Regions from separate parts of the Homo sapiens genome. Here region 2 is linked to region 1. Evidence: fine-mapped expression QTL. Tissue or cell type: whole blood. Region 1 holds a variant in brackets; the other region holds the start of a gene. All regions are shown on one strand. Distances are from middle to middle.

Region 1 (2,684 bases):
CATCCCCAGGGCCTCTCACAATGCTGGTTTCAGTGTAGCTGATTTTAGGGAAAGCAGAGGTAAATCAGTCAGAATGAGAGAACAAAGAGGAGGGCTGCCTGTTCACAAAGAAACAACCCCGTCATACCACTCTTAACAATGAACACTAAAACAGATCATGACAGACACCACTTTAAGTGAGTCTTGGTATGCCCCTATTTCATGACAAACACCTGCTATTTCCAATTTCACTCACCAAGAAAAATCTCATTTGTCCCTAGAAGTTATGTGTAAGGCTTCTGAGCTGAAAACAAAAGCAAACGGGGAGGTTTGTTACTGTGACTTTCTGGATTAGGTAACTAAGAGGACAAAAGCTATCTGACCCCTGTCTGCATTAAAGTTCCCTGTCCACTTTGTCTCTCTCTCTTTTTTTTACTCCACCCCCGAACCCACTTTCTTCCTTTGTTCTTTAATAACAAATATTTCAAGCCTCTGGAAAGCCATGAATTCTGCCTTTGATATCCAGGCACTAGAGAGAGTCCTTAAAGAACCCGAGATTTTATAATAGGAAAATTTATAACCCACAATTTAAAAAAAGAAGTTTTGCATAACAAAATTCCAGGAAGTATGTGTTATTGACAACCTCAAATACAGCACAGACAAGGAATCTTTTAAAAAGTCTACCAAACTTGATAAAAAGTTTCTCTTATCAAAAGCACATTTATATGAAGGGAAGAAGGCAGTGAGCAGATAGGAAGTATAGGTTTGGAAGAGAAAAGGAGACATGGAAAAGTAGCTGGAAAAATCAAGCAACAATTTTTTTTTTTTTTTTTTTGAGACAGAGTTTCGCTCTTGTTGCCCAGGCTGGAGTGCAATGGCGTGATCTCAGCTCACCGCAACCTCCGCCTCCTGAGTTCAAGCGATTCTCCTGTCTCAGCCTCCCAAGTAGCTGAGATTACAGGCATGTGCTACCTTGCCCGGCTAATTTTGTATTTTTAGTAGAGACAGGGTTTCTCCACGTTGGTCAGGCTGGTCTCAAATTCCTGACCTCAGGTGATCTGCTCGCCTCAGCCTCCCAAAGTGCTGGGATTACAGGTGTGAGCCACCACACCCAGCCAATTTCTTTTTGCTTTTAAGCTAGGGAAGATCTGGACAGTTTGGAGGCAGAAGGGAAAGAGTTGCTGGAGGGGAAAAGGACAGGCAGGACTGGCTTCATGGGCATGTGACCTATGCAGTCAGCCACCCCAGGACCCTGCATTTGGTTTAATGCTCTGCTGGTTCTGAAAGGTATAAACCACTATGTGGTAGGCTGATTAATGACCCTCTATTTATAAATCCTCATCCTAATCTCTGGAACCTGTGAATATGTTATCCTATATGGCAAAAGGGACTGTGCAGATGTGATCAAGTTGAGGATTTTGAGATAGGATGGTCTGTAACCAATGTAATCACAAGGGTCCTTATACAAGAGAGACAGAAGAGTTAGGGTCACAAGAGAAGGCATGTGA[C/A]GAGGGAAGCAGAGAGAGTGAAGGAGATGTGAAGTCATGAGGTAAGGAATGCAGGTGGCCTCTGGAAGCTGGAAAAGGTAAGGAAACACATTGTCCCTGAGAGCCTCCAAAAGGAACACAGCCCTACAGGTCCATTTTGGACACCTGATCTCCAGTACTATAAGGTAATGAATTTCTTTTGTTGTATGCAACTAAATGTGTGATAGTTTCTTACAGCATCAATGAGAAACTAATACACGCTACATAAACACAAGGGAGATGTATTACTCGTTTTGTAGAAATCAAAGGCATTAATAAAACTAATAGCAGTTACCATTTATTGAGTGCTTCCTAGGTGCTAGGCACTATACTCAGCTCTTTCTGTATCTAATCTTATGTAGCCCTAGAACAAGATATGAGGTGGGAATTAAGGCCCAATAACTAGCTAGAATGTTTTAGAGTTGGGATCTGCGCCCAATCTATGTCACTCTAAGTTTTTTTTTGTTTTACCCCATCCCCATATTTCATCATAAGCCTTTGGGTTTGTCTTCATTCTTTAGCATGCGTTATACTCGCACGTGTCAACCTAGGAGTCGGGCTGGGGCGGGGCAGGAGATGACATCCACATCTAGGGTGCATGAAATTAAAAAAGAGCCGAAGCCATCTCTACAAGTCACAGGTAGCTTACATAGGCACCCACAGCAGATGTGAGGCTACAGAAAAATGAATGAGACAAAGAATACGCTTCAGACCGAAAGTCAAAGATCCCGCACCGTCCGTTCCTAACTCGCCCGCGTACTGGGTGAATCCTAGAGCCTGGCGTCTGCGAGGACTCCAGGAGCGACAGCAGGGACCGACGCAGAGAGGTCCTCAGCCTGGTTTCCCGGAGAAGAGGTCGCCCCGCTTCCCCCGCCCGCACCCCCCGGTGTTTTGGAGGCCCGCGTGGTCCCGCCTCATTGGCCGCCGCGGAGCCCGAGGCCTCGGGGAGGCGGGGCGGCCTTCGCAGTTGTAGTTCCCGAGTCCTCTCGTTCAGCGGCTCCGCCTTCCTGCCGCGGCGCCTAGGCGACCGCCCAGGACCACAACTCCCACAAGGCCCCGCGCTTGGGGGCGTGGCCGAGGAGCCAAGCGAGCCGGGGGCGGGGCCGCCTGGGGGATGAAGTGGGGGCGCTCGCCTTTCCTGCCTCACTCGCAGCTGCCGGGTGTTGGGGAAAGAGTCGC
Region 2 (2,684 bases), 140 kb after region 1:
TCTGAAATTACCCTCACCAGGTGACACCGTTGACGCCTTCCCCTTCGGCAGAGTCCTAGTGAAAATGGACATCTTAGTGCTTGGAAAGCTAATGGGAATCAGAGATGATGATGACGATGATGACGGCGGCACCGCGTTATTAAACCTTTGTGCAACGCTATACAAAGTATTTGCAAAGTGCTCAACAATTACTGCACTTTCATTAAGTCAACCATCAGCAGTAAAGCAGCAGCCAAGTTAATTCACATACTCTCCCATTAGCTTATTTAATAATATGCCCCATAAAGTGATTTTTGTGTGGCTGTAAAAGAGCCCCAGTCAGCTTTTATGGCCTTTTCTTGGGGCCTCTCAGATGAGCTCAGACAGTAACTCTGATGAGCGGCAGCAGCTCGGAGCTGGGTGTTACCCCAGCCTGCTGTTTAGCAATCCGGTGGAATGAGTTAGTAAGCCGCAGTTCTGTAGAGCTCCTAAGCCGGAGGTTCAAAACATCTCATCAAAACCAACATGGTCTCACCCTGCCAACGCTCAAAACAGCAGTGTCAGGCCCAAATCTGGAGGCCAACGTGCAGAAGACCTTTCCAGGCCGGGAGTTAGGTGCCTGGGGAGGCAGGGCAAATTCTAGAGTTCAGGCCTCCCTTGGGGGCACACCTTCCATCCGTACTAACTGGCGTGTGCAGGCGCTGCTGCTTCGCGCTGCGCACGGAGAAGCGCCCCGAATCCACCGCACGATGCGGAGCCAGGGGCAGCGAGTGAGCGGCGGCCTCCAGCCCTCCCCTGCCTTCTCCTTGCCCCTTTTGGGAATGGCAGGGGGTTTCCTATGACAAATGCCCGCAAACAGGACAGGGTTCGGACGACCCCAGAGCCGGCGCCTTCTCCCTACACTCTCAGCCCTAGGGCCGGACCCGCCCCCGCGGCTGCCATCGCCCCTGCCTCGGGCGCCCCGCGGGGACCACCCCGCCAGGTGAGCGCCTCCAGGAGCCTCTCTGAAACTCACCTGCGTGAAGTACAAGTTCATCAGCGTGAGGGTGAAAAACTGCAGGCACACAGGGAAGCAGTAGAGCAGCCAGAAGACGAAGGGGCTGAGCGAATTGGCCGCCACGAAGTCTTTGAAGTAGAAGGAGAAGAGGACGGTCCGCAGGGAGGCCCAGAAGAGGCAGAGAAAGAGGAAGACGCTCTGGTAGCTGAGCCGCTTGTGGCGGTAACGCAGCACCAGCCAGAGCTGCACGTAGATGAACACGAAGAGCAGCGCGTAGAACACGGTGTAGACGACGGTGAGGCCAAGCTTCACGTAGGGGGGCACGGCCGGGGTCAGCGTGGGCGGCAGCGAGTCGTTGCGGGCTGGGTCCCACGGCGGGGTCTCCATCGGGCCGGGGGCGCTGCCGCGCGGCCGGGGACGCTCGGGCCTCATCGGGGCTCACGGCCGCCGCCGCCCCCGCGGGGGTCTCCGCGCATCGCGCTCAGCCTGCAGCCCCGAGACTGGAGGAAAGAAAACAAGCCGCACTTCCTCCCCCGGCACCACATGATTCACTGGGACGGCCTTTGTCTGCGATTGGCAGCGCCGCGCCCGCCGCCCCCGCGCGCCGACCGGCCCCGCGCGCCCCCGCCCCGGCCCGCGCGCCCCCGCCCCGGCCCGCGCGCCCCGGCCCGCCCTCCCCCGGGCACCGCGCGCCTTCGCCCCGCGAACCCCGGCCCGCCCTATCCTCGCCACCGCGCGCTCCCGCAGTGCGCGCCCCCAGAGCCGCACGCCTCCTCCCGGCCCCCTCCCCATCCCCGGGGCCGCGCGCTCCCAGACTGCGGGCCCCCAGAGCCCCGCGTCTCTTCCCCCCTTCCCGCCCCCTCCCCATCCCAGGGGCCGCGCGCTACCCGTCCCCGGCCCCTTCCCCATCCCCGGGGCCGCGCGCTCCCGCACTGCGCGCCCCCAGAACCGCGCGCCTCCTCCCCGGTCCCGGCACCGCGCCGCGCGCCCCCAAAACTTCCCAGCCGCGCCCCGCGCCTCGGGGGATCGCACTCGTGGCCTCGCGCATTCTGCTGCTGATTGCTTGTTTTGCAGAAGTTAATTCCTTTATTTAAAAACAAATTTAAAAAAAAAACTTTACAAGTCCTTTCCGTCCCCCCCTTTAAAAATAAAACTTTACGACTCTGTGGCTATGAACTGGCCGGCGTCTGGAATGATGTTTATTTCTAAATGCAGACATGCCAAAGACAGGGTTCGTATTTTTGAGGTCAAATTTGTATACTGAGTGAGGAAATAGACGGTGCCTGCGGCTGCTGCCTCCTCTGGGATGCAAGCTGGGCTGTTTTCTCCCGGAGAGCCTCACGCGCTCCCAGCGCCTCACCTCCCAGCGATGTAGCCGGTGCCGGGAGGCGCGCGGGCCGCGGGTCAGTGGATGGAGCCCACTGGGCTTCAGAGAGAAGTGGGGCAGCTGACGGCACACGGCCCCCCTTGTCCGATCCAACCCATGCCGAAGGAGGGTCTGTCCCCGCCACCCGAGAGCCCTTCTCTTTTGCTTTTGCTGAGCAGCTCGCTCCTCGAGGCTGTACAGCGACTTAGTCTTTGCCCCGGGGCACCACGCCACCCTTGTCTTGGGAGAGCTGGGGAGTGCTCTGGGAAAAGAGGGAAAGCCGGGCGCCCTCTGGAAACATTGCTGGGCAAGCGGTTCTGGTAAACAGAAGAAACTCGGATT

Evidence for each region. PIP is the estimated chance that this variant, and not a neighbour inherited with it, causes the effect.
Region 2: GPR137B starts here. The variant in region 1 is fine-mapped to the expression of GPR137B in whole blood (TOPMed, PIP 0.95).

What each region holds. Positions count from the first base shown.
Region 1 is chr1:236,281,925-236,284,608 of GRCh38, reverse strand. ERO1B (endoplasmic reticulum oxidoreductase 1 beta) reads left to right here and starts at 2,651. Exons shown (of 16, transcript NM_019891.4): 1 at 2,651-2,684. RefSeq lists an enhancer at 323-472 and a silencer at 2,307-2,684. The variant C/A (reference allele first, on the strand shown) is at 1,488.
Region 2 is chr1:236,141,347-236,144,030 of GRCh38, reverse strand. GPR137B (G protein-coupled receptor 137B) reads right to left here and starts at 1,492. Exons shown (of 7, transcript NM_003272.4): 1 at 995-1,492. The coding sequence starts at 1,408. RefSeq lists an enhancer at 765-1,268 and silencers at 1,234-1,503, 1,574-1,753.